2 linked regions of the Homo sapiens genome follow. The protein of the gene in region 1 interacts with the protein of each later gene in a biochemical or structural test. Each region holds a gene or a part of one and is shown in the gene's direction. Other genes may lie near its edges.

Region 1 (7,025 bases):
AATATGGTTACTAGAATTATAATTACACTGTATTTCTGTTGGAAACTGCTGGTCTGTGGTGTTTTCTGATGTGTCTAGAATGTTTCTTCAGCATCTTCCCACACTGCCATTTGTCCTGCTTAAAACTATTAGGTTTCTGGGTGTATATATAAGCAGTTAAGTGATAGATAATTTTAAATATCTCAGTAGCTGTTTAGATAATTAATCCAGCACAGTTGTTACTACACAGATACAAAAAGATAGTTGTGTCAGTTTGATTTTTTATTTTTACTCAACAGATGACTTAGGTTGGTTAATTATCTAGAGTTTATCGTTTACCTTAGATCCTAAAGTAAAAATGAATTAAGACCTATTAAGCACTTCAGTTATAAAATGTGGTGCTCAATGAAATGTCAGGCAATAGAGAAACTTTTCAGTCCTATGCTACCTATTTGGGTCTTTGTTTTTTCCTGCCTAAAAGAAGATACTGCCTAAAGGAAGTGGGTTAGGTGAGCAGACTTTTGTAGACTGGCTTAGCCTTTCATTAACTTTTCCCGAAGTGAGTGCTGCACATACTTTCAAAATAATAAACTAGGTAGTGTGATACATTTTAGATGGATTACTTACCACATAAATGTGTTAGTTTAACCTCTTCATTTAGTGCCGACTATGTCATGGCTTATGCTAGGCCTTTGAGGTAAAACAGCCGAGGAAGACATGAAATAAAACAGGTGGTGGCCAGGTGCAGTGGCTCACGCCTGTAATCCCAGCACTTTGGGGGGCTGAGGCAGGTGGGTCACTTGAGGTCAGGAGTTCGAGACCAGCCTGACCAACATGGTGAAACCCCATCTGTGCTAAAAATACAAAAATTAGCCAGCCAGGCCTGGTGGTACACGCCTGTAGTCCCAGCTACTGGGGAGGCTGAGGCAGGAGAATCGCTTGAACCCGGGAGGTGGAGATTGCAGTGATTAAGTAATAATACTATTTCCATGCTGAGCAAAGGGAAAAGGAGTTGATTACTTAGCACACAGTATGATTCTCAGATACACATTTAAATTGTTCCCTAGTGTTTTTATTGGTACCCTATGGTGGGTTTGTGGGGGCGATTGTTTTGAGTCAGCGTCTTACTCTGTCGCCCAGGCAAGAGTGCAGTGGCACAGTCATAGCTCACTGCAGCCTCAAACTCCTGGATTCAAGTGATCCTCCTGCCTCAGCTTCCCGAGTAGCTGGGACTACAGGTGCATGCCACCACACCCAGTGAATTTATTTTTTATTTCTAAAATTTTTTGTAGAGACAGCATCTCACCATGTTGCCCAGGCTGGTCTCAGACAATCCTCCCACCTTGGCCTGCCACAGTGCTGGGGATTACAAGCGAGAGCCACCACCCCAGCCCAATACCCAGTGTTTCATGCAACTTAAGTTTCAAGCTTTTAGGGGGATGGAGGAGATGCACTTGTGTTCCTAGGGTTAAGGCAAAAGAGGTGGTTAGTAGCACCAATTAATGTTAATCCGGGCATGAGTGGATAGCTATTTATATTAAACTGCCTGACCAATACCTTTAAGTTCTTCAGTAAGTGTTAATTTAATTGAAAAACATTTAGTTAACTATAGAAGCTGTGAAGATGTTAATTCGGCCAGTAAATTATTCATGACTGTTGGTGGGTTCGTTTGAGCTTTAATAGCTCCTAATAGACCTCATTAGTGCCTAAGAATGGCCCTGCAGTACTCCAGAGTTTCAGTTCCAGAAATCTCTTTTTTTGTGTTACTGAATCTTGGACTTGACAGTTCTTAATGTGATACGACAACCTGGAATGGGTTAATCCAGTTCAAGTGTTTCAAGATAACTTGTTTTCTCCATGTTGAGTTCTTTGGGTTCATTAATACACCTAAAGCATTAAGATAAAACCAATATACACAGTCTGTATTTTTTAAAGAAGAGATTATTTCTTGATTGGATAATTAAAACTATATAATTAAAGGTGGTATAACTGTTTACACTTGAATTGTGGCATAACTGTTTACACTTGAATTGTGGCGTCCTTTTGCTTATTAAGGATTAACTACCTTTTTCCTTTGGTTGTATATGGCAGCACTGGATTAGGTGCGAAAGGAGGCTGTGATAAAGAAATTTGAGTTTACCTCTCAGAAATTTGAAATAGAATTGGAGGAACAAGATACATAAAAACATGAAGTAAACAAAGTACAGAAATTGCTTGGTATCACTTGCTGCAAATTGCTTGGTGCAGGCAGTGGATGTTACTGCCCCATTCATTAGTAGGAATTAATGAATGAGTCTGCTGGAATGGTCAAGAAAGGCTTTTTTGTCACCTTGAAGATCACAACATAGTATTTTTTTGTGGGAAGACCCATATAAGCAAAGGTGGCTAGAATTCAGGAATCTCCCAAGAGTTGTGTTTAAGGATTAGGCGAGGTAATGGACTTCTGGTAGAACTGGAACACAGTAGAGAGTAAGGATGGAAGGTAGAATAGAGACACCTGGAATAGTAGTTCTTAATCCTGGCTGGAAGTCAGAAACACTTGGAGCAGGGGTTGGGGGGAGATAACAAGGCCTGGCACCTAACCTAGTGTAGTTAAATTTAGAATCTTTGTACGGGACTCAGGCTTTGATTTTGTTGGTTTTTGTTTGTTTGTTTGTTTAAGGTTGCTGGGGGTGGGTGGATAGCCAGGATTAAAAACTTCCCATCTAGAATGGTGGAAAAATAACTGAAGATGTTTGACAGGGGAGATGAGAAATGAAATTGGAGAGTTTTTGTTTTGTTTTGTTTTTTGAGACAAGGTTCTGATCTGTCTCCCAGGCTGTAGTGCTGTGTCACTATCTTGTTCTCTGCAGCCTTGACTTCCCAGTCCTAAGTAGCTGAGGCTCCAGGCGTATACCACCATGCCTGGCTAATTTTTTGTATTTTTAGTAGAGATGGGGTTTCTCCACGTTGCCCAGGCTGGTCTGGAGCTCCTGGGCTCAAGCAGACCTCCTGCCAAGGCCTCCCAAAGTGCTGGGATTACAGGCGTGAGCCAACTCACCTGGCCAAAATTCAAGTTTTTGATAGTCTGGTGGTGGTATGTGACAGAAAATGGAAAGTGTGCACACTGGAAGTTGGCGGATATATTAGACACCTGAGCTAAAATATGTCACTTAGTAGGATAAGAGATGAATACAAAAGATATAGCGAGGGAAATACTAACACAACTTGCAACATTGGGTATGGTGATGGAGAGGGGAAGAATCAAGATAGTTAAAGAAGTGGCCCTACCTCAAACCAGTTGTATTACTCTGAGTGGAGGCTGGGCATAGGTTTGTTTTTGTTTTTTTTTTTTTAAAGCTTCCCAAGTATTTGAGCACCATTACCCTGAGACATATATCTAGTCTGGGTAATAGGAGAATGATCTAAATAAAGTTGAAAGATCAGACAAGTGTATGTAACATTTGATATTTGAAGGAACATGGGATGTTAGAGAATAGAAAATGGCCAGATCAGCTGTTATTGAGTTTTTATTTTACATGTGAGGAAAGTGAAACTTAGAGAGATTAAATAACTTGTTCATGGTATTTACTAGTACCAGTGATTGCGATTAGGCTCTTCTGGTCTGAGCTATTTAATCAGCTCTGACCTCTCACCTGATAATCATTCTTCTGATGTTTTCAAATATCCATTTCTCAGCACGTACACCTTTTTCTTATCTCTGTAGAAATAATTTTCGTTAACACCATTTTGTAACTTTGGAGTCAGTGCAAAATTGTTGTTTATTTTATAGCTAATATAAAGCAGAAATGTGATTTTTACTGATAAATAAATTTTATTTCTCTTCTATAGACATTTCTCATCTATTTACTGCAGCAGTGCAAATGAGATTTCTGTTTGCTTACTAAGTCATCTCCTTTAGGATTTCAAGACTTAATACCACTTTCATCAAAAACTAAGGCACTGTTTCCTGTTACATCACGTTGAAATGCTTCATAATCGGGCTCCGCTACACCTGTCACACTACATATCCTATTTCACTTCAGCCCAGCTCTCTGTTCTAGCCAGGCTAGCCTGTTGATTTTCCTCTGAAACAACAAGCCACACATGTTGCCACAGGCATTCATGCAGAAGACTTCACTTGATGCTGGGCTTAGAAAATCATAGAATGCATGGTCGCTGCTCTGAAGAAAGAATTTAGTGGCATATTCTCGCTTGACTTATGTGCTGTTTCATGCCTAGAATACTCAGCTATTTTCTTTCTCCTAGAATTCTGCCTGATTTTCCAGGTTCACTTCAAATTCCACTTATTTAAAAGCCTTGGTTGCTTTGATGGACATGCAGTTGTGGATAAACAATAAATAATATTTCTAGATAGTCTGTGACATAATAGATACCTAGATACTAATTGAGCAAAATAATTTTTGGCATTTTTGTCCTATACTCTGTTTTTTTTTTCCATGTTTACATCTTGTCTTTTCAGCAAGATTGTCTATGCTCTCATGGCAGGGACTTCTTTTATGTTTTCCACAGAGCTAGATCCTTATAAAATACTTGCACTAAATTAAACATTATGCCATGTAACTGAGCTTATTTGGGGGAAGAGGTCAATAAAGACTATGGAATAATTTGAGGTCTTGGGTATGAGATACCAAAGGAGGTAGTTGCTAGTACTTGAGAGATTGCTCCAAATAACATCAGATGAGCATGCTTCCAAGTTTCCTGCATTACTTGCATGACCCATGATTCTAAGTTAATGAAATGAGTTTGTCCCTCTTCTCACCCACTGTCCCTGATTATTTTATGTATGTTATACTTAATGTCTTCATTTTTTACCTTTAGTATGAAGTGTAACAGAACAGACTTTACCACCTGAAACTGCTGCTTCAAGTTCAGATCAGGCAAGGAACAAACCTCGTAACAACTAACAAGACCAAAGAAGAGTACACTTAAGTTGAAGACACAACACTTGATCTGAAACAAGAAGTTTGTGCCTACTCAACAGCTTTGAAAGAGCACTTCCCAACGCTGCTAGTAGTCTTTGTTTTCTTCAGTGCTGTACTGTGAGATTGCCCGGTACAGCAGCAGTTGTATTCTTTATTAGCTTGGTAGATCATTTTCTCTCGCTCTTTTTTTTAATACTAGCAACTTTCATCCTTTGAAACGTGTGCTGAAAAAGAAGAATCAGCAAATACTACTGAAAGTGCAATATTTGAGTATCACTGCGAGGTAGGTTTGTAATTTCCTATTAAGAATCAGTTCCATAATTCTAGATTTCCTGATTATTTGGTCAAATATAAAATCTTTATTTGTTCTTTTCTAAAGGTATTCAGAAGACAGTTTTTCTATTCTCAACTAGTATGAAATATCAACACTATCTCTTGTTAGATAAGGACAGTATTTATGGTCAAACATTTTTCATACCAGATTATATTAATACATGCTGATCTCTCGACTTGCTGGTCTCTTAGAGAAGCTCCGTCTGTACTATTTAGAAGTTAGGATTTCAAATAAGAATGTGCATTGCAGTCTTTCTATGAGGGTCTGTGAAACTTTGGTGATATTTGCTACTGACGTCTGTTTCTTTCTCTCTACTGTCTTCAATGTTAGCTTCTTGAGGAAAGAACCTTACTTTATATCCATGCCTACATTTGCAGTGCATATTTGTGAACGGTATACAGTGCACATTTGTAAATGGTTGACATGCCTACTGTATTGTTAGGCATTGCTAGTGCTGAAATATAACGAATGAATAAGATACTAATGGACTTAATGATTTAGAACAATTTGTTACACAATATCACAATATAGGCTAAAAGATACTAATAAAATATTAAGAATATAACTGAAGCTGTTCCCTTGGAGGTAAGGAGGAGGGTAAAGAAAGCCTACAGAAAAGGGATATTTGAAGGTGAGTAGTACCTTGTTAAGAGGTAGAAGAGACATTGGTAGAGGTATAGAGGTAACAGAATTAGCAGATTCAGGGCTACGTGAAAGCACATGGTATATATTAAGTTGTTCATTATGAACAGAGTAGAGAATATAATTTTGCGGGAGAGTTATGAAAGGGAAGTTTGCTGGAGGCTTGGCCCAATGCATTTGTCTTTATTCCGTAGGAGAGCCATCAGATGTCTATAAGCAAGGGCTTAAGGGTTTTTCCCCCAAAAGTAAGATAGCTTTATTGCTTCACATTTTAAAGTAATATTCAGAAGTGTACCTTTAAAAGACAAATGGTGACACTTTTGAGGGAAAGGCTGAGGATGGGAAGACCTGTCAAAAGCAGTGGATCAAGTATAAGGAAGATAAAAGCTAAGGTGTAGGTAGAGAAAAAGGTAGGTGCTAGGTGTTCTGATGATTTAGAAGTGAGGACTTGGGGACCAATTGAATCTGAAGATAAATGTGGAGAGAATGGCTTTATCAAATCCAGTTGTGCAAACTAGAAACCTTCATTGTTCATAGGAATAGGGAAGTTAGAGTAGTAACTTACTGATATTAAAATATGTTATGGAAATCTATTGTGTTCATTAGATAGCAATCTGAAGTTGAAGGAAATACACTAGTATGGAATATTGAACAGTGGTTAACTTTGAGGGTAGGCTTATGAAGAGCAATTTTCCTTTTTAATCTTTAGTTTCCAGATTTTCTAAAGTTAGACATAAAGGAATTCAGAAAGGAGTCATCAGTGTATAGGTAATAAAAGGAAGAAGCACCAATGAAGAGAGCAAAGACATAGAAGTCAGGAAAAAGCACCAACGATAATTTCAGGAAGTCAATGGTAAACATTTTTTTAGATGCTACAGAGGTCAAATAAAATGAAGAATGAAAATAAGTCATTCAGTTACAAAAGCTTCACTGCTATTTCAAGAAGCGCTTAGGACTTTATTTCCAATTTATTGAAGGATTATGTAATAGTGTCAGTGACCTTGCTGTGCACTAGAATTATTCCTTAACAACTAAAAACTATAGTAAAATTATCTATGTCTCATAAACAGACACTGTTATTTAATTTTAAGGTAATTGTAGCATTTAGTTTTTCTATTTGTTTCTTCTTACCTTAGCTGATTTTT
Region 2 (6,967 bases), on another chromosome or scaffold:
TGCAGCAAATGGCTACTGTGGATTGATACACCATTATTTGCCTAGCTGAAGGATTAATATCCCATCTTATCCTGCCTTCTTCCTCCCCTCAAGTAGGCCTAATTGTATGAGATAGAGAGAAAAAGAGAAGTCTAGGCAGGAGATGGGGATAAGGTAAAGAGTGGAAATACAGTTGGAAATTAAGCAAATATCTTACAAGTGTTTTGGCTATTTAGCTATTTACATCATTATTCTCCATCCTCTTTGTGTATTTTGTCTGTAATCAAGGTGATATTCTGACATAGGTTGTTCTCCAAAAGCCTGTCTTGTATCAGACAGGCTAAAGTATTGGTCAATTCTGTCATGAGTGGTAAGGCCCTTTATTTGGCTTTTCATATGTTCCTGATTGAGACTACAGAAGCCAAAGTTGTTATGATCAAAGATTTCCAGCAGGGGGTGTAGCTGCCTCTATAGGGTAAGTTCTTTTGAAGCCACAACATATGAAACATTTGAATATTGCAGTATTACCACTAATGGTAGAAGCTGGAATTATGATAACTTTTTTTATGACTGTCATGTCTTTTGATCTCAAAAAGACCATGCATATTAATACTTTATTAGGATGTGATGAAGAACTAGAGATTTATGAAGAAAATTTAAATTAAAAACCGAAAATGCCTGACAAATCTTATTCTAATTTTTTCAAAGTAAACGAGGAACAAAGAGTCCAGTTATTTTAATTATCCAGTACAGCAGAAGAGAGGCTTAACTTTTTTATTCTAGATAAGAAGAGTAGTTGATTTGAGAGGGCTTGTTAATATTTATTCCATTTCCATTTCTGTCCGATATTTGTGCGCGCGCATGTGTGTGTGTGTAAATAAGTTACCTATTTTCTTAAAAATTATCCTTTTGAGTAGGGAGGGTGGGTGTTTTAAAGCTTTTTCTCTGAAGTCTTGGCTCCTGATCAATTTTTAAAGATGCCATCTTACATATTTTTCCTCCTGCTCTTTGATGCCTTTTATTTATGGATATATAGGCATTATTAGCCACAGAATTGTGGCCCCCATTTCAGATTTTTATTGATACAGAAAACTCTATTTTTTGAGAAGAGCAAATTACATACAATAACTTATTTGTACTGGTAAACACCTTTAGACTATTAGTATTAATAAGAAACGAAGTCCTAAATTTCCAGGCTCCCTAAATCAAGATAAAGAACTGAAAATAATGTCGACTATGAAAATCATTGTTTGGAAATCGTGATCTTTTTTTTTTTTTTAACGTCTTCTGGTGTCTTCATTATAAGAAAATAAATGAGATTTCAAGTCTTCCCTGCCTCCAGTATCATGTCCTATAACTGAACATTACACCTTTTTAACGTTTTCTTTAGAAGCCCTGATTTATTTGGCTTTGGTTTATGTTGATACATGTCCATGATTATTAAAATTTCTGATTATTTAGGACATAATTTTTAAGGTATCTTTAGGGTGTACACTCTATAGTACTTAACATCTTATTCAGGTTATGACTTTGAACTGCATCATTATAACACTAAAAAGCAACCTTGGCTAACTTCAGTACCTTACGTAACATAAGAAATAAAGAATAACTTGAACTTAAAATACTTTTTATATGTTTACTTCGGGTATTCTTAAGGGCTTTCAGTACAAAGATAAAAACATGCGTTGGAATGCATCAACATTCCAACTTACATAAGTGGTGTAGATACCTATGGCATTAGTACCACATTTTGATGGTTGGACCACCCACCAAATTCCCTTCTCTCCTTTTTTACTTCTTTTTCTTTCTGTTTGCTTTCCTTGCAAGTTTCCTTCCGCATCCTTCTTTCCCACCTACAATTTGTAACTGAAAGAAAGAAGTAGCTACAGACCTTACCTAACCTACTCTTAACCTACTTGGTAGGTAGGGTTCAGATGCAAGGGAGTGGCTCGAATAAAGCATTTTAGTTATGCCTTTTAGAAATTAGGGAGCAAGAGATATATAGAAAAATTAGAAATGTCTCTTCTACCTTTATTAAGTCTACCTTTGAGAAATATGAAGGGCAGGAAGACGGAAAAACGAACAGAACTTCTGCTGGAATATTGTGACAAATTTACTGACAAATATTTTCTAATAGATTTTTACCAACAGGCAGTTTTTGTTTTCTTTACTGACAGACCGTAAATGTACTTCTGGTTGGCAGCAGCTGCATCATTATAACACAAAAGCAACCTTGGCTAACTTCAGTACCTTATGTAACATAAGAAATAAAGAATAACTTGAATTTAAAATACTTTTTATATGTTTACTAACATTAAACTATTTTCAATGCAGGAAATAAATATTTCCCCAAAGAGGAATCCCCCCTCAATTACTTTCTTTCAGACTTAACAAATTGGAGTAGATGTGGTTTTGCTCATTCTTTTATCTGCTGGCAACTATTTTAAGTCTCCTGTGCAAGGCAGATTCCGATGACCTCGGGAAAGTCACAGGACCTCAGTTTCTTCAATGGTAAAAGCAAAGGCAGTGGTTTCTACCGTCCTTTCTCACTGCACCATTCAGCGTCAGTGCCCTCATGAGAAACACACCCAAAGCCCAGTGTGCTCTACCCCAAAACTTGTGAAATTTCTAGAGTCTCAAAAAAGTGAATATGTTTAAGGCAGTATAATAAAAGCCAGGTGGACGACAGTTCCTAAAGTTAGGCTGGTAGTGGCGTGAACAGGGGTCTTTTGGGCCACCCTGAGACCCGCCCCACGGGGCTTCTCGATCCACGTCTTGGCTTCTCGCTCCACTTTCACAGAACGTACTGAATCAGGGGCCTGCATCCCCGTGCCGTGCCGAGCCGACGGAGAAATGGACTCCTCTTCTCGCTCCTGTGGAGTTTCGTCTTCTGGGTGAGTGTGGCACCGGGTCCTGGGCGGGTGATGTCTGTAGTTGGCGAGCGATCCTCAGCCAGAAAACTGGCTGCGCACACAGGCGCAGACACGCGAACATGTTCCTGCGAACGAGCTTGGGCGCATGTTTTCCTCCCTTGCTTTCTTTAATGCTCAGAGACCATAAGGGGATTTATCGAGAAGCATTCGGTGCCCATGCCCGGTTTGGAACCGCGAGCACAATATCTGGTTCCTTTGCAGTACGGTGGTTTGCTCTTGAGTTACGACCAGAAACCGGAACAGAAGGAAAGGGAGAAGCAGGGGAGGTTCGGGGACGACGGCGCTCCGGGCAGTAAGGCAGTAGCTTCCAAAGCGTGGAGGATGGGACTGAGGAGGAGCAGAATACGGAGAAAGAGGGAAGCTGAGGAAAAATACTCACGCCAATGGGTAAAAGGGAAAAGGTGAGAAGGAATGGAGTAGGGGAGGGAACCAATGGTGGGAGAGGCGGAGGAAGAAGGGGGAGGGGTAGAAGCCAATGGGGGAGTGGAGGGGAGGGAGAAGCAGAGGGGAGGAGGGAGCGGGGACGCGAGCGAGGACGCGGCCCCGCGCGCTCGTCCCCCTCCCTCCGACTGGATAGCTCGCGCCTTCCCAGGCTCCCGGGAGACGAGGGCAGGGGCGGGGCCGTGCCGGGTGCGCGGCGCGGGAGGCGTCGCGAGGTGAAGGGGCGGGGACGGGGGATTGTGGGGAGGGCAGCGCGGGTTCGCGCGCGCGCGCGCGTCCCGTCCAGGCTGCGCCGCCGCGCCGCCGCTCCGCCCCCGGTCGGGTGTGTGGCTGCGCGCGCCGGGAGAGATGCTGAGGTAAAGTTCGGGAGAGAGGGAGAGAAATCCGTCAGCGCGAGGGAGCCCGAGTGGCCGCCATTACTGAGCCCGGCGCGGCGGCGGGCGCTGGGGAAGGGGGGAGGGACGGGCCGCCGCTGGTGGCGGGGAGGGAGGGAGGGAGGGTGGGTGAGCTGGCTGCGGGAGCCGTGGGGCTCAGGGTTTCGGGGCGTGTGTGTCGGGGAGGGCGGGGGGAGGTGGCTGAAGGGACGCGCCGCTCGGTGAGCGCGCCGAGGAAGAGAGGCGAGCGGAGAGTGGAGGAGGAGGCGGCGGCGGCGGGAGCGGTCCCCAGGAATGTCGCTGCCGCCGCCACCGCCGGGGCCGCTGCCGTTGAGGAGGAGACGGAGGAGACCGACGTTGTTAGGTAGGACCTTGCGGACCCCGCTCCTCCAAGCCTGCCTGCCCCCTCCCGGACGGGGACCCTCCTGCGGCTAGCTGCCCCGCTCGGTCGCCGCTGCCGGTTGTAACCAGTTGAAGGGGCTGGGGCCCCGCGGCCGCCGAGGGGAGCCTGGCGCTGCGCTCGGTTTTCGCAGGCCGGGCGGGCAGCAGCTGCAGCGTTAGGGATACGTTCGGCGTGAAGGGCAGAGAGGCCGGGGGAGGGGGTGCTTTCTCCACAGGTGACGGGGCCAGGGTCGGCGGAGGCCTGATGCTGGCCGGGGATCGCCGGCCCCGCCAGGCGTCCGCTCTCGCCCGCCGCCTCACTTGCTCGAGTCTCGGGTGGTCCGTCGAGAGGGGAGGTGGCGGTGTCCGTTGGCCGGGTTGCTGCTGTTAACGAGTTCCACCTGGAAAGGGTACACGGGGCGGGTGCAGATTCGCGGAAACACAGTCTCGGTTGCAAACTTAAACGCCTTGTAGGGGGGATCGGCCCTTTCACTTTCCCTCATCTCCTCGACTCCTCCCTGGGTTCTCTTCACCAATTTTCCATCTGCTTTGAAGCTTGGAGTAAGATATGAGAAGTTGCACTGCGCATCCAGAGCCCAGAGTCCTATGGGCTGACTGCGACTGGGTTGAGGCTTTGATACTGAGTTTTCGCTAGAATAACCTCCAGATTCTTCCTCTCTTTCCACTAAAGAAAAGTATCGGGGTGGGGGTGGGGAGCCGCGCGGGAGCGCGCGCGCACTTATCCACACAGAAATACTCCCTCTCACCCTCCCTCTTCAGCGTTATTAGAAATGCAAGAGAGCTGGAGGCTCGGGGTGTAGCTGAGGTTGAAAGGTGCACGGAAGTAAGGGCAAACTGTTATTAGGCCGTTTAGTAAAATCCCGAAAAAGTTGTAGGGGAGACGCTTATACTTCTACCATGTGATAGAAATTCGGATTTGGCCATCGCTTAATAAATGGGAATTCAAATATTTTGAGATAGAGCAAGATAGGCATATAGATGGGTTTGTGCTTACGTTTTAAGTTTAAATTCTTATCGATCATTTATTTTTTCCTTTGTGATAGGCAGGAAACTGAATTTTTTTTTAAATGTTCAGGTGTAAAACAGCAAAATGCTTCGCTGTATTTACTAGTACTTGCTTATGTTGCTTTCTACAGGTAGGGGCGGGGGGCGAGTTTGTCAATTCCACTTAAATCCAGAACCAGTATTCAGTTAGAATGTTAGGTGGTGTTTATCCGCATGAAGGATCTCGTTCACTTCATGGGAGCTTGCTCTACATTTCCACTTAAAATGGTTCTCCTAACAAAAATTTCATCTAGATGCAGCGATTAGACATTTGGAATAATGTTTGGTTTAAAAATACGTTAATGAAACCTTTTGCTGTCAATTCTAGTTTATTTGTACTGTAATACGATAAAACGGTATTCTTATTCAGTGTTTGTAGATAAGTATTACTAACCGTCTAGGTAACCTACTAGATAGTTTCTTGAGTAAGATTTTGCTTTCATTTTAAATTCCTTTCTCATTTTTTGCTTTCATCTATCCTTTGTATACTAATTGACCTCCATTACCTTTATCTGTAGTACAAAGAGCGGTAAGTATGTGTCACCAAAAACTTGCAAAGACACTGGAGCAATTTATGACTAAACGCACTGGAGTGAAAGGCTGCGCATACCTATGCTTGTAACTTTCAAGAAATAGCACTATTGATCTAATTGACTTAAAGCAGAATCAGACGGTACAGATGATTAAATAACTATTGATTTGGTTGTCTTGTGTAGGCTGTGTTTTTAAACCTAGATCAACATGTCTTATTTTGCCATTCTTTGTACATTAATTATTAAGAGTACTGGGGAGTGAGGTGGGTTACACTTTGATGTAAGAATTGCGGCAGAATTCTGTTATCTTTATGAGTTTTGTAGTGTCCCTCCCCATTTAAACGACCTTAGCAATTTTTAAAATGTGTTGCAAAATTATTACCTTAATTCTGTCACAAGATACTTATCCTAAATGTTTTGAAAACCGTCTCCCCTTCTTATTTGTGTTTGAAAAGCATATTAGCACAGTCATTTTTTTGGAGAGTTATTTTGACCTTGAAAGTTAAGATTATTTAAGGAATGAATATTGTATTTGCATTCCTTTTTTGGATTTGAAGTAGCGATAATAAGTTTTCTAACTCACTTTTTTTAATTGAAGAAAAAGTTAGGTCTCATAAAGACTTTACTAAACTTTACCAACATTGGCAGGATGTAAGATGAGTGTTGGCCTTTAGTGGTCACTTCTTAAATATGAAATGGCATAATAGAGATTTTCTTGGTAGCTACAGAATAAGTTTTGTCGCAACTGTAGTTTCCATAGATACTATTTTAAGAACTATTTATTTGGGTTGTATGGTCCACAGTTTTTTCTTTGCATACCAAGAAGGTGTGTAGTAATATAATTGGCTGAAGAAGCATTGTACAGTGTTGTTTTAGTGATGTCTATGTTCCTAAAAGATACTTGTATTATATATTTAAAGTACACCAAGGGAATTTAATTTCTAAAAGACCTGTGAAGAAACATCAGTAGATTCATCATTCAGTAATTTGAGTAATCAGGCTCTTGTTTTAAGTGCAGGCTTTTGTCGATTATTTTATTGAAATAGGAAAAACCATATTAGAAATTAAGAAAAATGCTTCAATGCTAAGAATTTTAAGTATGAACTTTAATTGGTTTTCAAACTCTGTTCCTTGGATTCCTGTGGGTTTTTTTCCTAGATGCCTTGAGACTTCCTATGACAACCCACCCTCCCAAACCAGGACAGCTTCTATTTTCATGTATTAAGTGTATTGTATTTAAATATAAGAATATTTAACTTAA

Evidence for each region. The genes of interacting proteins can lie anywhere in the genome.
Region 2: the proteins of CSDE1 (region 1) and ARHGAP5 form a complex in vitro, tested with the Homo sapiens proteins (one study listed by BioGRID).

Annotation. Positions count from the first base shown.
Region 1 is NC_000001.11:114,747,983-114,755,007, reverse strand, and holds part of CSDE1 (cold shock domain-containing protein E1), read left to right. Parts: intron 1-4,800; 5' UTR 4,801-5,187; intron 5,188-7,025. UniProt on the Homo sapiens protein: RNA-binding protein involved in translationally coupled mRNA turnover.
Region 2 is NC_000014.9:32,073,345-32,080,311, forward strand, and holds the start of ARHGAP5 (rho GTPase-activating protein 5), read left to right. Parts: upstream 1-3,959; 5' UTR 3,960-4,091; intron 4,092-6,967. UniProt on the Homo sapiens protein: GTPase-activating protein for Rho family members.